Homo sapiens: one gene and its partners. The protein of the gene in region 3 interacts with the protein of the main gene of each other region in a pairwise test. Each region holds a gene or a part of one and is shown on either strand. Other genes may lie near its edges.

The links. The genes of interacting proteins can lie anywhere in the genome.
Region 1: the proteins of SLC7A1 (region 3) and TMEM19 interact in binary tests that used the Homo sapiens proteins (3 or more experiments, as listed by UniProt).
Region 2: the proteins of SLC7A1 (region 3) and SLC39A9 interact in binary tests that used the Homo sapiens proteins (3 or more experiments, as listed by UniProt).

What each region holds. Positions count from the first base shown.
Region 1 is NC_000012.12:71,681,526-71,689,081, reverse strand, and holds the start of TMEM19 (transmembrane protein 19), read right to left. Parts: upstream 3,001-7,556; 5' UTR 2,402-3,000; coding exon 2,272-2,401; intron 1-2,271.
Region 2 is NC_000014.9:69,436,668-69,443,691, reverse strand, and holds part of SLC39A9 (zinc transporter ZIP9), read right to left. Parts: intron 1,861-7,024; exon of another isoform or gene 1,720-1,860; intron 1,624-1,719; coding exon 1,426-1,623; intron 1-1,425. UniProt on the Homo sapiens protein: Transports zinc ions across cell and organelle membranes into the cytoplasm and regulates intracellular zinc homeostasis. Participates in the zinc ions efflux out of the secretory compartments.
Region 3 is NC_000013.11:29,515,685-29,522,708, forward strand, and holds part of SLC7A1 (high affinity cationic amino acid transporter 1), read right to left. Parts: intron 6,773-7,024; coding exon 6,633-6,772; intron 3,866-6,632; coding exon 3,763-3,865; intron 2,107-3,762; coding exon 1,889-2,106; intron 1,627-1,888; coding exon 1,460-1,626; intron 563-1,459; coding exon 454-562; intron 1-453. UniProt on the Homo sapiens protein: High-affinity, low capacity permease involved in the transport of the cationic amino acids (arginine, lysine and ornithine) in non-hepatic tissues.

The DNA of each region.
Region 1 (7,556 bases), on a different chromosome or scaffold from region 3:
CTGGAGAATGGCCAAATAGGTTATGTCCAAGTTTTGAAAACCTTTTACTGCTATTTATGATAATAATGGATATCTAGATATTTAAAATGAACCTCTGGTTCATTTTTTTTAAAGGGGGCACGTATTAAATTTCAAGGACTACCTAGAACGAACTCTTTTTGTAACAGGATCTTACTCCTCTCTGCCTGTCAGAGGACAGACACCTCATTCAATGGTTAGAAATTGATTATTCCAGAGGCTGCATCCAGCTCACAGATGTTTGGCTAGCAGAGTGTTTTCAAATAATTTTAGTCAATATTTAAAGATTAGGAGATATCATATAAAAATCCAGATTCTTGGCTTCTGTTTTAAAATTGGGAAGTTCTGGCCAACATGGCAGAATTGACTTAAGGTAAAGAGAGGTGCCCTCCTTTAAACAGGCCGTGGCTTTCCCATTTAAAGTTCCCACCCCTCCTGATAGGCTCCTAAACGCCAAGGCAAAGTGATTTCCTTATGGTAAAGAAAACTGTGAACCACTGCTTGTATCTATGTTTCTATCAAAAATGAGAAAATGGGCCGGGCGCAGTGGCTCATGCCTGTAATCCCAGCACTTTGGGAGGCCAAGGCAGGAGGATCCTGAGGTCAGGAGTTCGAGACCCAGCCTGGCCAACATGATGAAACCCTGTCTCTACTACAAATACAAAAATTAGCCAGGCATGGTGGCAGGCACCTGTAATCCCAGCTACTTGGGAGGCTGAGGCAGGAGAAACCAGAAGGCAGAGGTTGCAGTGAGCTGAGATCGTGCCACTGTACTCCAGCCTGGGCAAAAAGAGCGAAACTCCGTCTCAGAAAAATAAAGGGGAAATGAAAGACAAAGAGGGCCCAAGCATTCAACAAAAGATGAGAAATATCCTATTTCTGGAAATGAAAACTATTACCACAGGTCTAATACACAAAAACGTACACAGATTCATTTGCATTAGGTGACTGGCCCCAGAGGGATATTTCAGTTTACAAATCCTGATTTATTCCATTTAGTTCAAGTCATAGTAAATACTGTCACTAACAAGAATCTTTTCTTACACCCCTCCCCTAAAACTCTGATGCCCCACTGTGAATCATTATGAACGAACTGCACTGAGAGCTTCTGTAGCCTGGAGAACCCTTTCCAACTATTCACATGTCTCTTTGCAAAAAGCCTACAGTCTGAAATGGCAATCCCTTACGATACAAGCATTCTCATTCTCCTTTTCATTTTTCCTTTGTTGCAAACTGACCAGTATTTTGTTTTCATAGGAGAAGGAAGTTTGTGTAAATGGAGGCTTATGCTCTAAAGCACCTTTAAAACTTTAAAGATCTGAGTCCAGAGTACCTTATATTTAAGCAATGTAGCTTTAGGCTTTAAAAGGAGTCTATTCTTTTGAAGCAACCAAATGGCAGATAAGTCCTTCAGCTCTCCAAATGTAAATAGTATACCGTTTTTAATTCTTATTATTTTTACAGAACATGTGAAACTGATAAACTACATTACTACTTTTTTTTTTTTGAGACGGATTCTCGCTCTGTGGCCCAGGCTGGAGTGCAGTGGCTCAATCTTGGTTCACTGCAACCTCCGCCTCCAGGGTTCAAGTGATTCTCCTGCCTCCATCTCCCAAGTAGCTGGGATTACAGCTTTTTTCTAGTTTTAGTAGAGCTGGGGTTTCACCGTGTTGGCCAGGCTGGTCTTGAACTCCCGACCTCAGGTTATTTGCCCGCCTCGGCCTCCCAAAGTGCTGGGATAACAGGCGTGAGCCACCGCGCCTGGCCCATTACTAATATTCTTATTCAAAATTAAAAGCATCACTGTAATTGCTTTACAAAGCTATATTCGCCTCACTTATCTTTTACCAAGACAGATGGAATAGTTACATAAAATATAAAGACATTTTGAAATAGGTGTAACTAGTCCAGAAGTGGTGGCCTGTATTGCCAGCACTTTGGGAGACACAGGTGGGAGGATCACTTGAGCCTAGGGGTTTGAGACCAGCCTAGCAACACAGAGGGACCCCTATCTTATACAAAATAAAAATTAAAAAAAAAAAGAAATAGGTATAACTCGAATTATCACAACAAGCATTTATTAAAGGCATTGTTTATACTATCATGTTAGTAAGTTAAATCAGGCTATGGAAGTTAAGTAAACACAACCATTCATAACCATTCAGAGGATATGAGTTTTGGATTTCACAATGGTATGGTTTTAATTTCCTCTGACTAGATTACAGAGAAACAACTTAGAACACTCAGACTTACCATAATAGGTGCTTGCAGTCATTGATATAATCCAGAAAGCTAACGAAATGCAAATGATCAGGCTCAGTATAACTATATTAGTTATCATCTTTATATATCTTTTGCATATATTGTCGTTAAGATCTGTCATGGAAAATAAGGATATGAGCTCCTGCGGGAAAGAATATTTAGCGTTTCGGAGAGAAAGTCATTTACGATGTGAGCAAGACACTTGTTCAGAGGCAAACATAAATCCCAACATATTCCACCGACCAAACAAGCATAAAAATCACAAAAATTCAAACTCCTTCCGGAAACTCCTACTGGCGGAGAGCTCCAATTCATATGGGCGTGGTCAACGCCTCACCGCAAAAGCAGAGCGCAACCCGGCGGACGGTGAGGGCCGGTCGCCGGCTGCCGGCCGCTTCAGCGCCTCACGCCGGAGCCCACGGGGAAAAGAGAAAGCCGAGGCAGCCAATCCGCGGTCCCGGCGCTGGCGAGTTCCACCCACCTCCCGTCGCAACCTTCTCACCCGCGGGCCGGGTAGGCCAGCGGCTGCAAAGGGGCAGCTAGGGCACCCGAACTTGGGCAAGTCTGGGAAGCACGCCCGACGCGGCTGAACGCAGTCACGTCCCGACAGCTGCGCAAGCCGCCCTAGGGTCAGGTCCAGCCGGCCAAGGCCGAGACCCCAGGAGCAAAGCCCGCGCCTCCCGGCGCCCCCGCCTCTAGCGCCTCGCCCGCTGTGGGCATGCGCCGCAGCCGCTTAGGGGGATGTCGCCTAGCTCACGTGGGCAGGCACTGCTGGCATCCTGGCCGGCTGCGTTTGCACTGCTTCTCCAAAACCACATTATAGGTACTAAACAACATTGTTTAGTACCTATAATGTGCTAGACTCCTGGCTGCTAGCGAGGTAAAGTTAAACATAGTTTCTATTACTGAGCTCTCGTAATTATTGTCATAACACCACTTAGATTGTGGAAATATCTGTCCTCACACCCCTTATATTAAAGGTGTGTGCATTTAGAAAGCAAAACGTCTTGTTAGCATTAAAAATCTGAATCGTGGCTGATTTCTTTTCTTTTCTTTTTTTTTTTTTCGAGACAGTGTCTCTCTCTGCCGCCCAGGCTGGAGTGCAGTGGCACGATCTCTGCTCACTGCAACCACCGCCTCCCAGGTTCTAAGCGATTCTCCTGCTCCAGCCTCCGGAGTAGCTGGGATTACAGGCGCCACAACCACGCCCGGCTAATTTTTATATTTTTAGTAGAGACGGGGTTTTGCCATGTTGGCCCGGCTGGTCTCGAACTCTTGACCTCAGGGGATCCACCCACCTCGGCCTCCCAAAGTGCTGGGTTTAATGGCGTGAGCTACAGCGCCCGGCCTGATTTCATGTTTTATGTGAAATTAACTTGTTTGCCTGGGTTAACAGTAATTAACTGATAATTACATAATATTTATCAATTTTTTCAGTTAATTGCTGACAGTGTAAGAAGAGGAGCCAAATCCATTTCAGACACAGTATGCAATTGTGTTTTAAGCCCCAAGAGTAGTTACTTTAAAAAAGCTCACATTATTTTAAATTTCAAAATACATGCCAAGACAGCTTGTCATTTTCTTTGGTAAGACATCTAATTAAGTAGTTAACTAAGAATCAAATCTGTGAAGTAGGACTAAATAGTAGTGGGCTTCCTGTACTAGATAATATACATATATGGTCTTTATGCTGAAATGTATTATGTGCCTACTTTATTTTTGTCTTAGTCTGTTCTGCATAGGTAAATGTTTGGATTATTTCACCAAGCTGACTGGCCAGTATCAATGTTACCAGACTACTGGGTAAAATTATTAATAATGAAAGCTAATGTTTTGTGGTTTGCACAGTCGCATTGTTTTTGTCTCTGCTTAGACAAAATTATAAACTGGTCTTTTTTTTTTTTTTCTTTTTTTTGCCTTGCTTCACCACAGTCACAGAGTGACCCTCTCTGATTAGTTGGTGTTCGATAGGAAAATCATAGCCTAGTTGTGAATGTCAAGCTATCTCCCAACACTGTGGTGTAGCTGTGTCAGGTCAGTCCCTGGATGTCAGGGATGATTTTCTCATGACTATTAGATCTGGCTAAAAAATGCATATTAAATAGTAGTGTCAGTGAACTGACCCTTTAGATGAATATTTTCCCTTCTATTTTTTTCAGTGACCAATTATAGATGTTTTTCTCCATAAAAGTTATTCTAGCTTAAGACCAAAATAATTTAGAGGAGTTAATATAATTAAAATACAGTAGTTCTTATATGCAATAGGCAGTTTCAGTTACCAAGGGTTAAACATGATCTTGAGGCAGGAGAATAGGGTCTCCTATTGAGGCAGGGAACCTAAGGCCGATTCATGCTGACTTCCTAGAGCTAAATCAAAAGGAAAACCCCAACTTCCCATACCTAAGTAACAAAAGGACCCAAAGCTACGCCCTTTGCAAACCCCTCTTTTTTTCTGCGTGGCAGATAGAAAATTGAAAGTATCTCTGCTTGGTAGCTTTCTGCAACCAATCAGACGTTTGCGTAGGAGTGTAACTTTGTAACTTTGCTTCAGCCTCTAATTGGTTGTTTTTCACAACCAATCAGACTGATTGTGGGCTAGTACTTCATTTACATTTACATAAGGTGTACACCAAGTAACCAATGGGAAACCTCTAGAGGGTATTTAAACCCTAGAAAATTCTGTAAGGAGGCCCTTGAGCCCCTATGCTCAGATGGTTCCCACCCTGTGGCGCGTACTTTTGTTTTCAGTAAATCTCTGCTTTTGTTGCTTCATTCTTTCCTTGCTTTGCTTGTGTGTTTTTCCAGTTCTTTGTTCAAAACACCAAGAACCTGGACACCTTCCACCGGTAACAATCCGAAAATATTAAAAAGAAAATTCCAGAAATATTCATAAGTTTTAAATTGCATGCCAAAGTAGCATGATGAAATCTCATGCCATCCAGCTCCATCCCACCTGGGACGTGAATCCTCCGTTTATCTAGCATATCCATCCATGCAATAGACATTACTCTCTTGTTAGTCACTTAGGAGCCATTGCAGTTATCAGATGGACTGTTGCAGTATCACAGTGCCCTTATTTTAGTTCTATTACAATATATTGTTATAATTGTTCTATTTTATTATTAGGTATTCCTCCTAATCTCTTACGGTGCCTAATTTATACATTAAGCTTTATCATAGGTATATAGGAATTGGAAAAAAATAGTATATATAGGGTTTGGTATTTTCCAGGGTTTCAAACATCCACTGAGGGTGTTGGAATGTATCTCCAAGGATAAAGGGAGTGGGAGGGGCTCTTGTATACTTTTAAAAAATCACGATTTTACTGTTACAATTTTTATAGACTATCAATCTTAAAAATTTCAACAAAGTCTTTGTTTTTCTATTTACTTTGGAAGCCATTTTCTGGCAATGGAAAATTTCTGGTTAGGCATTTCCTAAACTATATTTTTTAACTTAATAGTAGTTATTCTTTGTTATTAGTAGGCATCCCTACCACTCAAAAGATACCTGTGATCAAATTTAAGGTTGAGAAATGTTGTCTCTACATGGGATAGTTAGAGTGTATTATTAATGACTCTAAGAAGTTAAGAAACAAACACATTTGTTTAAATGGTTCCAACAGTTAATTGTCTTCATCAGATTTATTTCCTGTAGAAAACATGCAGTTTGAGACTTACTATAGCAATCATAGAATAAACTGAAAGTTCATTGTTGCGCTGATCTTTAAATTTCACAATATAAATACCCATTTATGGTTAAGTGCTCTTTGATATAAAGTTTGGATTTTTCTATGATAGACATTTATATTCAATACCAATCACAAAAATTATCCTAATGTCAAAAAGCACTTACTGTGTGATAGGAAATTATCAGATTTTATTTACAATCCCTTTGAATCTAATTCAAAGGGATTGGTTTAGATTTTCTGAAATGTGCGAATATTTGAGTGATTTGAGTGCCAACACACATACACCACATGTGTATGTGTGGTGAAGGAGCATAGCAGATGAAAATGGACATGTAGACAATTACATTATAAAAAGATGATGACTTTATCCAAGTCATATATAAACAGGACTCAAGGAGAAAAGCACTTATGTCACTCTGGTATGTTTAGGGATGGTGTCACACAAGAGAGGGGAGCATCCAAGGTAAGAATTGAAAGATGACAAAGAGTTTGCTCAGTGACTAAGCTAAACAAGGGCAATTTGTAAAGGTTTGTTTGGTGGTTAAAAAGAACATGAAAATAGGAAGTTCAAGAGAATGGAGAAGAGTTAGAAATAACACATTTTGGAGTGTTTGCTAAATAATTTATTAAACTGAAAATTCATCTGAGAAATAGACACCTCTTTTAAAAAATTTTTAATATAAAAATAGAGGTGAGGTCTCACTGTGTTGTCCAGACTGGTCCCAAACTCCTGGCTATAAGTGATCCTCTTGCCTTGGCCTTCCAAAGTGTTGGGATTACAGGTGTGAGCCACTGCATCCAACCAGTATATGCCTTCTTGACATTAAACCCGAATATTTTGTTTTTTAAATGTTTGTAGTATAGATTTTAAAAGACTAGGGAGCAATTTGAAGATGGATTTGTTGTATTAGGTTGAGCTCATTCTAAAAGGGCCTTAGGGAGAGGGTGGGGAGCAATTGAGGGCAGGAATAAAGAAATGGAATACTGTTTTCCAGTAACCTTGAGGACGGACACCATGTCTGTCTGGCACATCCTAGTTTGATCAGTGTCTCTTAATGAGTGTTAAGATAGTATTTTTTGGGCTGGGTACGGTGGCTCACGCCTATAATCCCAGCACTTTGGGAGGCCAAGACGGGCGGATCACCTGAGGTTGGGAGTTCCAGACCAGCCTGATCAACATGGAGAAACCATGTCTCTACTAAAAATACAAAATTAGCTGGGCATGGTGGCACATGCCTGTGATCCCAGCTACTCAGGAGGCTGAGGCAGGAGAATCACTTGAACCCGGGAGGTAGAGGTTGTGGTGAGCCGAGATTGCGCCATTGCACTCCAGCCTGGGCAACCAGAGCGAAAATCCATCTCAAAAAAAATAAAAATAAAAATAAAAAAGATAGCATTTTTTGAATTACAGTATTCGAAACAAGTTTTTTTTTTTTTTTTTTTTTTTTTTTTTTTTTTTTTTTTAAACAGTCTCACACTATTGCCTGGGCTGGAAGTGCAATGGCACAATTTCCGGCTCACTGCGAACCTCTGCCTCCCCTGGTTCAAGCGATTCTCCTGCCTCAGCCTCCTGAGTAGCTGGGAT
Region 2 (7,024 bases), on a different chromosome or scaffold from region 3:
TGCCATGTTGCCCAGGCTGGTCTCAAACTCCTGAACTCAAAAGGATCCGCCCATCTTGGCCTCCCAAAGTGCTAGGATTACAGGTGAGTCATGGTGACTGCCCCCTCATTTCCTTTAATTATGAATGCAGACAATAAACCACAAGTAATATCAGCACTATCTTTACTGCCAGTAGAAATCAGACTAATCAGGTTATTTTACAGTTGTAGATTATCTTTAAATTATCGCTTTCACTCATCACTACTTTAAATTAAGGACTTATAGAACTGCTGCCATACTGCATGATTACAGCTTTCCTGTCTGCAGATGCTCATGTGATGGAGCTGGGCAACTATCAAGTAGCTCTGCATCTAACAGTCACTCAGCCACCAAACAGTGATAGTCACAAGGCTCTCCCATTGGGGACCAAGATACTTATGCTGCTTTCCAATATTTCCTATCTGCAAAATTCCCTGCTGACATATCTGAAAAAATATGTCTACACATCAATCCCTGGAGAAGTTTTATAACTCTCAAATTTATTTCTATCACCACAGGATCGAAGTGTATCATGTATCAGAATCCTTTTTTATTAATATAAATCGTATGAAAAATGTTGACCTAGCCAAAGATAAATTCATTGATCTTAAAACAAAACAGTTACTATGACTGGAGTCAAATTTGAAAAGTCTTGGGGAATTCTAGTTGTCCTTTAGAGAAGCTTATGATTCCTTAAAAAGCAAGCTACAAATGTGTTTAGGTACATTTGTAAGAAAATACCTTTGTAAATCAAGATTTTCTACACCAATAACCATCAAAACAAAAACCCAAAATCAACTAGATGTTTAACTTGACATACATGTTGCCTTGTTACAGACTACCTCATAATTTAATGTTCTTAAGCCAAGCATATTATTATGTAATAGCTAGCATACTAATGTCCTAGAAAATAAAATTCAACTCTAACTTGTTTAGGATTTAAATGTATTATCTCATTATTTAATGCACTGATAAAGACATACATTACTATATCACAAATTTGTTCTGATGTTTTAGTAACTGTATTTCAACAAAGGTGGTTTTCTCTTTGATCTTATGTACTATGTTTTATACATTTAAAAACAATATTCCAATAAAAGGTCCACAGTCTTTAGACTGCCTAAGGGCTCCACAGCAAAAAACTAAGTTAAGAACTTCTGCCCTAGACTCTCAACCAAATGTGACAACTTTAAGACAAGCAAAGTAATAAACCAATAAACACTTCTTTGCGCCACATGCCACAACTCACTAGCTCTCCCCACTTAGTTAAATGTTCACTAGAACCCAAGGAAGACAAGAGTTTTAGCACTAAATATGGCCACTGATACAGACTGAAATATTTGATCGTTTGTAACTTTCTCAACTGCAAATGTATTGCACTGCCCAGAAAGCCTTGGAGCCACTCACCGTCAGTAGAATGCACATGGGAGTTACCAATCTGGTCCACCAGCAACATGAAAACGAAGCCCAGAACGAGGGAAACACCAATATAGGCATGCAGCTGTGTGTGGTCGTGGCTGTGCTCATGTTCATGGACAACTGATTTTTCTGCTGCTTTGTCTGATGCAATCACATTATGTGTTTCACTTGCTTGGTGGTGTTTTCCTAGAGCAGAATAAACCATAAAGAGAAAATATGTTTTTCCCCTAAAAACATTTTCATGTAGGAGTTTCCATTCTTTGTATTTCAAGCTCTACTTACTTTACTGTAAAGACATCCACTTTTTATATTGTAATCCAGCCAATCATTAACTCCTTCAACTTAAAGTTCATGATGAAAAAATTCCCAAATGTCTTCTGCCTTTGGCATGCAGACCTTCTGACTGCCTATTATTCTCAACACCTGGGAAGTGGAAGCAAATCACCATGCAAGAAAGCAATCATATTCCCAAAGGGACACCATCCCCAAATATTCCTTTATCTGAGAAATTCATGCCAATCTCACCAGAAAATACACTGTTTTTTTCTGATGAAAATAGGCAAATGAAGAGCAGTAACAATGAAAATAATTGCAATCAAATTCATCTAGTTTATACCTAGGCTGAGATAAAAATGTAAAATAAGGAACAAATTGAGTAGAAAATTTTTAGCTTTATAAAATATCAGCAGACAATTGCCAGCAAGAAACCAAAAGGGCAGAGCAGTTTAAGAGGCACATCCTTCAGTCTAAATTCAGTTCTAGAAATATGGAGGTTGGGAGACTCTGAACTGCAGTAAATGATACCTGGCCAGCTGATAATCCCAGTTTACAGTAACATATTTGTCATTTAAAACATAAATGCTTCAAAAGGCCAAAAAGCTTATCTTTGCTATATTTCATGAATAGAGAATAACATACTAGACATTTATCATTTATAATCAGATTAAGCAGTTTAAGCCTTCTTTAAAAATTGAGACAAGGTCTCATCTTTCACCCAGGCTGGAGTACAGCAGTGGTGCAATTATGGCTCACTGCACCCTCGACCTCCCGGGCTCAAGCAATCCTCCTACCTCAGCCTCCCAAGTAACTGGGAAACCACAGGCAAGTACCACCATAACCAGCTAATTTGAAAATTTTTTTGTAGAAATGTGGTCTCCCTATGTTGCCTAGGCTGGTCTTGAAATCTGGGGCTCAGGTGATCCTCCCACCTTGACCTCCCAAAGTGGTGGATTACAAGTATGAGCCACTGTGTCCAGCCTAGAGATCCTGTCTCTTAAAAACAAAACAAAACAGGCCAGGTGCAATGGCTCATGCCTGTAATCGTAGTACTTTGGGAGGCCAAGGGGGGCAGATCACGAGGCCAGGAGATCAAGGCCAACATGGTGAATCCCCGTCTCTACTAAAAATACAAAAACTAGCTGGGCACGGTGGCGCGTGCCTGTAATCCCAGCTACTCAGGAGGCTGAGGCAGGAGAATCGCTTGAACCAGGGAGTCGGAGGTTGCAGTGAGCCGAGATCACGCCACTGCCTTCCAGCCTGGCAACAGAGGGAGACTCTGTCTCAAAAAAACAAAACAAAACAAAACAGTTTCACAAAATAATATCCAACCTTACAACAGTTACAATGTACTCTTCTGTTTCTTTCTCTGTCTCTCTCTCTTTCTTTCTTTTTGAGACAGGTATGGCCCTTTCACCCAGACTAGACTACAGTGGTGCAATCTCAGCTTACAGTAACCTCCATTTCCTGGACTGAAGTCATCCTCCTACCTCAGTCCCCCAAGAATCTGGACTACAGATGTGAGCTACCAAGTCCTGCTAATTTTTATATTGTTTTTGTGGAGATGTAGTTTTGCCATGTTGCCCAGGCTGGTCTCAAACTCCTGAGCTCAAGTGATCCGCCCACCTTGACCTCCCAAAGTGCTGGGGTTACAGGCTTGAGCCACCGTGCCTGACACTATTCTTATGTTTTTGAGACAGAGTCTCACTCTGTACCCAGGTTGGAGTGCAGTGGCATGATATCGGCTCACTGCAACCCTGTGCCTCCAGGGTTCAAGTGGTTCTCATGCTTCAGCCTCCCGAGTAGCTGGGTTTACAGGTGTACTACATGGTGAGTTCTTGCAAGATCTGATGGTTTTTAAGGGGCCCTTCCCCTCTTCATTTAGCACTTCTCCTTCCCGCGGCCTTGTGAAGAAGGTGCCTTGCTTCCCCTTTGCTTTCCGCCACGATTGTAAGTTTCCTGAGGCCTCCCCAGCCATGCTGAACTGTGAGTCAACTAAACCTCTTTAATTGACCTTTATAAATTACCCCGGCTTCAGGGCCTTTTGTGGTTACATATGAATTTTAGGATCGTTCTATTAAGGTTTATTTGGCTTACAGTTCTGCAGGCTGTCCAAGAAGCACGAATCTGAGGATCTCAGGAAGCTTCCAATCATTGCAGAAGGGGAAGAGGAGTCAGTATTTCACAAGACGAGAGAGGGGAGGGGTGCCATGCTCTTTTAAACAACCAGTTCTCTTGTTAAATTATAGAGGGAGAACTCACTCATCAGCAAGGGGATAGCACCAATATGTGCATGACGGATCCACCCTCATGACCCAAACACCTCCCACCAGGCCCCGCCTCCAACACTGGGATCAAGTTTCAACACTAGATGTGGAGGGGACAAATATCCAAACCATAGCAAATGCCACTGGAATTATGATAGGGGTTGCATTAAATCTGTAGATCACTTTGGGTACTACGGATATTTTAACAATATTAATTCTTCCAATTCATGAACACAGAATACCTTACTTATATTTTCTCCAATTTTTTAAATCAATGTTTTATAGTTTTCAGCATATAGATCTTTTACCTCCTTGGTTAAATTTATGCCCAAGTATTTTATTTTATTTTATTTTCTGATGCTATTATTATTTTTTTAAAAATTATACTTTAAGTTCTAGGGTACATGTGCGCAACGTGTAGGTTTGTTACATATGTATACATGTGCCATGTTGGTGTGCTGCACCCATTAACTCCTCATTTACATTAGGTATATCTCCTAATGCTTTCCCTCCCCCTCTGATGCTATTATGAATGAAATTGTTTTCATAGTTTCTTTTTCAAATAGTTCATTGTTAGTGTATAAAAATGCAACTGATATTTGTATGCTGATTTTGTATCCTGCAACTTAACTGCATTTGTTTATTAGTTCTAATTTTTTTGTGTGTGGAATCCTTAGGTATTTCTATGCATAAGATCATCTCACCTGAAAACAGAGACAACTTTACTTCTTCCTTTCCAATGTGAATGCCTTCTATCTTTTTTGTCTGCCTGACTGTTCTGGCTAGGGCCCCCTATATTTTATTTAATGTAGAGTAAAGTGACAGAAAAAGCCACAGTTAATCATACCTCTATAAAGAATCTGATACATGGCATTCTTACAGAACTGATAAAAATGAGTGGGATAATCTACATTGAGCCATGGCTGACAATAGCAGTTTTGACAATACATCACATTTATATTTTCATCTTTGACCCAATAGTCTACCTTCCTAAACATACCAATTCTAACAGTCCAAAGAATTTTGAGATGTTTTCAAATTTTGGCTGCACAGTAAAGTGCTGCATTACCCAACAATCTTTGAAGTTCTTAAAACTTGTTTCTATAGACAGTTTTTTTTTACGTGAAAGCTGATAATCATCTAATTCCAGTGATTTTAGAGCTATAATTACAGAAGAGTAAGAGGTTCCTTTTTACATTAATTAGTATTTAATAATGCTTATTAAAGCATCAGAGCACTTAGTTAACATGATATACTGAGTTCTGAAAACAATGTATTATAATTATAAGGTCCACAGAAGAACGAAACCATAGGCTGTAGTAACATGTATACAAACGTCTTTCTTGAAGTACGAAGAAAAGTTGTTTTGGTCTACAATAAAGAAAGAGGGGGGTCAGGCGCGGTGGCTCATGCCTGTAATCCCAGCACTTTGGGCGGCCAAGGCAGGTGGATCACCTAAGGTCAGTTGTTCAAGACCAGCCTGGCCAACATGGTGAAACCCCGTCTCTGCTAAAATACAAAAATTAGCTATGCCTAGTGGCAGGTGCCTGTAATCCCAACTACTAGGGAGGCTGAGGCAGGAGAATCACTTCAACCCAGGAGGCGGTGGTTGCAGTGAGCCGAGATGGTGTCACTGCACTCCAGCCTGGGTGACAAGAGCAAAACTCTGTCTCAAAAAAAAAAAAAAGGGTAAGGGAAGAGGGTAAGAAAAGAGAGAGTAAAGCAGCAAAAACAAAATTACAATGATATGTCTAAACTCATCAGTATGAAGAAAGATGTAAAAAATCTGGAGACAGCTTAGCTGAAAGGTAATATCATGGTTAAGTTACTTCACAGATTTTTTTGAGTTACTCTTCCCAGCACTTTGGGAGGTTGAGGCAGGTGGATCACGAGGTCAGGAGTTCAAGACCAGCCTGGCCAAGATGGTGAAACCCATCTCTATTAAAAATACAAAAATTAGCTGGGCATGATGGCAGGCACCTATAATCCCAGTTACTTGGGAGGCTGAGGCAGAGAACTGCTTGAACCCGGGAGGTGGAGGGTGCAATGAGCTGAGATGGTGCCACTGCACTCCAGCCTGGGCGACAGAGTGAGACTCCGTCTCAAAAAAAAAAAAACAAACAAAAAAACTTCTTTAACAGAGGTATTAACATTTTACATTTTAAAAGGAATGTTGGAGACATCTGATGCTGGCCATGTTACAGTAAGAGCATTTTGACGTCAATCACCCACTGATTACAACAAAAACTGGACAAAACACACCAAAAAACAACTACTTCAGGACTACAAAAAGTAAACAACAGCAAGTGAAGGCAAGGCAGCAAAAACTTCTAGAAAAACCCTGTCTTTCCGGCCAAAGGACCAGGAAAAGAGGTTGCTAAGAGGTAGTGAAGTACAGGAAAGTCTCCCCTTTTTTTCTCTACCTCCTCTTTTTTCTTTCCTGGTCCTGCCTTTAAGGCAGCCCCAGTTGCAGAACTGCATGGTGGCAACAAAGGCAGTTAAAACCCCATCTTTCTGGCCAGAGCAAATAGAAAAAGGGATCCCAGGCCGGGCGCGGTGGCTCACGCTTGTAATCCCAGCACTTTGGGAGGCCGAGGCAGGTGGATCATGAGGTCAGAAGATCAAGACCATCCTGGCTAACATGGTGAAACCCCGTCTCTACTAAAAATACAAAAAATTAGCCGGGTGTGGTGGCAGGCACCTGTAGTCCCAGCTACTCGGGAGGCTGAGGCAGGAGAATGGCATGAACCCGGGAGGCGGAGCTAGCAAGGGATCCCAGTGGTCTGAAGTGTATGGGGGAAACCTGGTTATGCTGTTCTGCCTTTTCTGCTGTTACTTTCTTTTGATAGAAGCCCAAGTCACATGGAACTATGTGGTGGCAACACATGTAGTGTTGCATGCAGCCACAGCTCTATAGAGAAACCTTGTCTTTCTTGACAGAGGACCAGGAAAATGGGGTCTGTTTGCAAAACAATGTGGAAGGAACACTGGAGAGGAAAGAGCTGAGAGAGGGGTTCTTTAATCCTATGTATAAACGGCACAAG
Region 3 (7,024 bases):
TGGAAGCTCCCCACCCTAGTGGCATCTCCCATAGGCTCCAAAGCACTCTCCCTCCACAGAGAAGACGCAATCACAGAGGAGCCCATGACATCCACCCTGCCTGGGCCTAGTGCCCGTACCAATTTGGTGCTGGGCAGGCCAGGGGGCCAGGAGGCACAGGCCAGACTTTCCTGTCTGGGGTGAAAATAACTGGTACCTTATCTGCAGCAGACTCATCACCTTGTTCCTGTTAATATCAAGGTCTTGCCCAAAAGAATAAATAGTTTGGACAAGAAGCAATGGAAACAAAAAGTATCTAACAGGGAGGAGAGGACTCACAGCCTACCAGGGATTCAGCATTATCTTCGAGAAAGCTGCTGACTGGATGTGCGTCATTCTGTTATGAAATCTGAAACAAGGGAGACCCCCAGGGGAAGCCAGGATCTTGGACGTGCTGGCAGCAGCATCACATACCTATCAGCATCCACACAGCAAACCGGACCCAGGTGCCCTGGTCCAGCTGCATCATGAGATAGACGTTCACGAAGATGCTCAGGATGGGGAGCACTGGCAGGAAGGGAACCTGAAGAGACAGGAGGTGGCTTCAATCCATGGCAGTGGCGCCGGTTCCAATAGTTCAGTAAAACTGTCTAGTAAAGGCAGCACAACTGAGAGTGACAGGGACCGTCGGGCGAGTGTGGGGAAGAGAGAGGGAGTGCCCACCCCCACTCCCACACCCCACACACAGCCCGCACCCAAACACACACACAAACACACCCAAGGGTACATCTTAGTAGGTGGGGATTTGATTCTAAGCTCTGAATGGCCAAATGAACTCCATTCTCATTTTTCTCTGTTGCGATTCTCCTGCTAAAGAAAGGACTAGAAGACGGACCTCCACTTTACCTCTAAGGTCAACAACCTTTTTTATTATTTGTGTAATCTAAAAATGCAGAAGCCTTGCCCGTCTCCAAGGCTTGGAAAACTCATGCATCAACTTGAGCAGACATTTACGAGAAGCATCCCACCACCCCGGAGGGACTGCTCCACTGGGTCTGCTATTATGTATAAACTTAGGGGCAAGTGGCTTCATGAGCAGCACCCTTGATACTGTCTGGGGAAGAGGCAGCACATTTCATAAAACACTGATCACAAGGGACATTTATTTTCCAGAGAATTCAGAAATAGATGCCGAATATCCAGGGACTGGCGAGGTCTCTCTTGGCCTGTGTCATGCAGGAAGGTGTCAGCCTGCCCTTGACTACTCAGGGAAACGTCCAGGGGAGAAGGGCTGCTGCCTCCTTCCAGGGTCTGGTCCTCTCTGTGCCTTCAGGACCCCTGCCCCATCTTACCTGAAGCTGGCTAGCAAAAACCTTCCTCGGGAGCACCCAGGCCCGGCTGAGCCCACGCAGGGCTGGCCAGGCATCAGGAGGGCCAGGGTCTGTGTACCAGGGTTCCTTCCCTAGGCCGAGCTGCTCACCTTAAATGAGAGCTTGGTCTTGCTCTCGGGCTGCCTCCAGATGACGCCCGTGACCACGGCACAGAGGAGGGCAGACCCTGCGAGCAGAAAGACTGCCCACAGCGCCCCTTTGGTGAGAGCCTCCCTTCCAAGCACGGTCACAATGCAGAAGGTGATGATGAGAACAGCTAAGGGGGAAGGAAAAGACAGCAAGCTGCAACTCAACCATTTCCCAATTTCCCACAGGCATCCACTGTTCTCCCCTAAACTTGTGGAGAGAGAGGCTCCATTTCCGAAGGCACAACTACAGTTAACACAGAGTAACTATGTCCCAGTCCAGGAGCAAGACAGATGCTCATCTTCTCTGGCACCTTCCCCCAACTCCAGCTCCACTGCCTAGAAACCATGCAATGCCAACAAGCAAGGCCCCAGGGAAGGGCTAGCTCTTACCTATGAGGCTGGTTGAAATGTTCACAATTAGCCCAGAGATTTTGGAAGGCTCCATGTTTTTGGGTGAGAGTATGGTTTTCAAAGAGAACATCTCTGCCTCTGGTAAAAAGCCCAGCTGGGAATCATTGGTGCTTGCCAATTCATTTTGGTCTGCTGGATCTAACTCGTCGGAAGTACTGGCCATCTGGTATACCAGGTTAGGCTGCTCTGGCTGGTACCTGGGAAGAAAGGCATTGCGTGACCGCCACATCTGCTTCAAGCAAAATGACGTGCACCAACTCAAGTTCTCAATAAGCCTCCAAAGTGAGCTGCCCGGGACACAAGGTATAAAATGGGAAGGATATAGTCAAATGCTGCATTGTAGATAGACGAGGAGAGACCGGGAACACCACCTCCCGCTGTTGCTTCTGGGGAACATCCTCCATGGTCTCTCCTTCGGGGCGACATGACCTCCACCATGAGCAGCCCAGAGGAATACCCTGAGAGGATCTCTCTTGCTCTGAGAAGTGGCAGCGGCCCTCAGATGCTAAAGATACTAGGCCACTTCCCACAAAATTACTGCTGTAGGGAGCAAAAGGGAAGGAGAGAAATAGGAAGCAGTAATGCCAGGATCCTATTTGGCACAGAGAGCCAGAGAAATGTGGCTGCAGGCTAGATGGATTTGAGAAATTCTATTTGTGTGACTTAATTGGATCAATTTATTTTAAAACTCCAAGTACCTTAGGGTAAATAATTCTATGTGGCTTGTTGGAGGGCCGAGCCTGCAGCGTGATTTCCAAGACATGAGCTACCTGCTAGTGGAGCATCCATTCTGAATGAGGTGCCTTATCTTCCCACCCGAAATGAACAGAGTGCAAATCTTTTCCACCAGCTTTGAAACACAGAGTTCTGTATGAATTATTTTGCATATGATCAATTCTAAGAGGGAGTATAAAGATATTAACCATTTTTGTATGGATTCACTTGTGCAACCCCACTCGGTCAATTAAGAAAGTGGGAGACCTCAGAGAATATTCTAGCATTGGGCCCCTTGGGAGGAATAAGGGGTCCCCAATAGTCTTAGCTGATTCTAAAGAGCTTCTGCTAAGGCTCAGCCCGGGTTTTATGTGCATCAGCTGCTGAACACCTTGGAAATGCAATCAATGGCCTTGCAGGTGGGAATCCCTGAAAAGAAATGAGGAGGCTCTTGAGGGGAGACCAGTGCTGAGCGTCTCCATGAGCACAGGTTCTCAGGATGGAAGCTGCGCAGGGATGTGCTTTGGGAGTGGGTGCTGAGGCAGGTGAGAACACCGAGACACCAAGCCTAGGCCCAGAGCAGCTTTACTGTGACTGGGAGAGGCTTGCCTGGCCCCCACCAGGCTATAACAAGCTGACTCCACAGTGTCTCTGAACATCAACCTAGGGCACGCCATGCCACATAATGGGATTCATTCCTCCAGCCACAGCGCAACGAAGCTGCAGAAGCATTATGCTGAGCTGGGTTTCACAGGCCTTGGGTTTTCCTAACTCCTACCAGGGCAGCCCTCAATCCTCTCTGTCCCAAGAATCTGAACCAAGTTGCAATCAGTCTTCAAACCTTCTGATCCCAGGATCCTGGCCTAATAGTTGGACCGAGAATCTGTCTCTATCCACCCAACATTTAGCCATAAAAATGAGGGCACATGATAGAGGGGGGTGAGGGGCCACCCAACTCTTGCCAAGGACGTCCTCCTAACTGGGCTCTCAACCCAGGTCCTCCCCTCTCCTTGGCAGCTCCCAATGGAGCTATCACCAACCTAAAAGTTTCATTCATCACATAAACCATAGCTGAACTGTGAAAAGGCTACCAGGTGCATCTGCATTTCTGTCATGAGACCCCCAAAAGCCATACATACCGTAAGACCAACACACAGGCAGCCACCAACGAGTAAGCCAGGAGAGTGCCAATGGACATGAGGTCCACCAAGTCCTTCAGGTCAAAGAGGAAGGCCATCACAGCTGGGAAGAGACAGACACCAGGATCTGTGGAGGGCCATCTGCATGCAATGACAACCAGGACCACCACTGCCGCCCACCATCCAGGGCAGCGAAGGGGGCTGCTTTTACTCCCACCCCCTCCCTGGCCTTCCCATGGAAAGACACAGCTTAAAGGGAAGTCAAGCTTCCCTTTAAGCTTGTGATTAAATCACAGACACAGTCCTCAACAGACAGTAATCATCATTAACATTTGTATAGAGAATCCCTTCATTCTTGTGATTTTAATGGCAACTTTGTAAGCCATCCCTACATTATAGATATAAACATTCACAAAGGTTAGGAGACTCATCTAAGGTCACACAGTTCACAAGCATAGGGTATAAGGATGTGAACTGGGTTCTTATGACTCTGAGTCCTGTGTGTCTTCCTCTAGACCATGCTGATTCACAGACTCATGTGCATCCATCCATCATCCATCCTATCGGTCCATCCATTCTCCATCAATCCATCTGTCCACCTATCTTCCATTCATCCACTCACCATCCATCCATCAATCCATCTCATCCATCTGCCCATCTCCCATCCATCTCATCCATCTATCTATCCATCCATCCATTCATCCATCCGATCCACCCATCCATCCATTCAGCATCTATCCATCTACCCATCTTCCATCCATCCAGCTCCGGTCAGAGTGTGCCCATCATTGGGTTCTAGGTACTCACTATTGAACAGGGCAGACCACAGTCCCCAGCCTTCCTGAGTGTACCCCACCAAGACACAGGCATTAGTGGACAACAGTGCTGGGTGATAAAGAAGGGCAAGTCTGGTGCTCTGGGAGGACTCACAGGAGGTCCTAACCCAGGCAGGCGGGCAGGAGAGCAGAGTTCTTCACATGTGAAGTCACTTCACGTGGAAGAAATCTGAAGAGTTGTTCTCAAACAATATAGTATCAGCCCCTTCACTGTGTCCCTTGCCTTTAAAATGAATTAAAACCTGCACCCTTATTTGAACATCTTTTGTGAGCGTTGTGAGAGTATACGTGTCTATTCACATGGGTGTGTATGTCAAGTACTCATTAAAAAACAACTTGGCTACATCTGCTTTGGGATATTTTCAAAACACATGCAATCAACACAAGCTAAAATATAAACACAAAGCCATTATTTTTCCACAAATATCTCTCAAGCCCCTCTAGATCACTGCAACTAAAACAAATTTAAATGGAGAATAAAACACAAAATTAAAGAGCAATGAGGGAGGGCCTTTTGGATAATCAGAACAGCGCCCAACTGTGCATGCCACAAATGCCGATGTTCCTACTCACGGGAAACTTGAGACTAATTTCTTCCATGTGAGGTGATTTTAGAAAACCAAATACTTATTTACCACTCCCACCAAATGAAAAGGGTAAATCCTGGATTTTGTGAATGGCATGTACTTTACAGTCACTTCAAAGAGCATGATTTGATCTCCCTCTATCAGCAGGGGAAGGAAATTAAGGCCAGTCTTTAATATGATCAAATTCCACGTAAAGCCTGAGAAAACAATGACTATTTCCAAGTCCTTAATCCTGTAAATATACTGGTCACATTCTGATGTATAGTGCCTCTCAATCTGACCACTGTGGTCACTCTCAAGAGCATAGAATCACATAAGAAAATGTTTCATAATTTAAAAATAGGTGTGTTTTATTATACAATATTAATCCACAAAACTAAGCACAGTTTGCTAAAGGCATAAATGCTAATAAAACTTAGTGAATAATTCATTCATTTAAGAAGGTCAAGTGCCTTACCAATGGCTATTTGACAAGTCGCTGTGTTAGAAACTGTGACTGATCTCACATGCCCTAATTTGCCAAAAAGACCCACTGCTCTGCTCAGACTCTGGAAGGAGCTTGGCTACTTTGGCATAAAAACAACCCTGGAATCACAAGGCCGCTCCACCGCCCTGGGTGCACATCCTCGCTTCACCTCCCTGGGCCTCCACTTCTACATCTGTACAGTGGGCTGACGTCTGCCTTTTGGGGCTACGAAATGCAATTGCGAAAGGGGCGGGCGTCTGCCTCTCGGGGCTATGAAATGCAATCGCGAAAGGAGGAGACATAGACCACAGGTACAGTGTGCACACGAGCTTCCTTGTAGGTTCTCCTTTCCTTCATCTGGGGCCCTGGAACACCTACACGGCTCAGATTAGTCCACTGATTTCATCCATCAAAATGGTCCTCTCAGCGATGAGGCTCATCTGACAAGATGAAACTCCACTGGGTCTGCTATTACGTATAAACTTAGGGGCAAGTGGCTTCATCAGCAGCACCCTTGATACTCTCTGGGGAAGAGGCGGCACATTTCATAAAACACTGATCATAAGGGACACTTGTTTTCCAGAGAATTCAGAAATGGACGCCGAATTTCCAGGTACTGGCGAGGTCTCCCTTGGCCTGTGTCATGCAGGAAGGTGTCAGCCTGCCCTTGACTACTCAGGGAAACGTCCAGAAATGGGGAGAAAAGGTTTTCGAATACTGTGTGTTCTAAGCTCCGCCCATTGAGATGAAAACCAGAGTGCAAACTGTTCAAAAATTCTCTCCCATCCTCTGTCAAACGGGCCTCTGCCTTTTGTCAAAAGGTCAGTCAACTTTCAATGAACCAGGCTCCAAGTATAAAAACCAGGAGTTAAAAAGACCAGTTAAGATTACTCACAGACCAGAACTGCGCAAGACGTCTCCCTAGGGAGTAATGACTCCATTGTTAAAACATTTCCATGTGAAATGAGTTCTAGTACTCACCAGCAACGGCACCCGAGGCTAATGTGGCGATTATTGGTGTTTTGGTCCTATCATTGACGTTGGCTAAGAATTTAAATAGCAGTCCATCCTCAGCCATGGCATAGATAACCCGAGGCATGGGAAACATGGAACCTAGAAGACTAGATGGGGAGAGGCAAACCGCGTGAGTGAACCTGGCTCATAAGGGATAAAGGCACCACATCCAGCCATGCTCGGTTTACCACGGAGGAGAGGGAGTCTGAGCTCACCAAGAGCTGCCGTCCCTCCACGCTGGGTGAGGCCTGTGGCTAAAAGACTTGGCATTTAATAAATCAATCCCAGAAAGAGCACACACTGTGAATAAGGATTAAGGTAAAGAATAGGGAACATCTATCTAACATACACTAGCATGA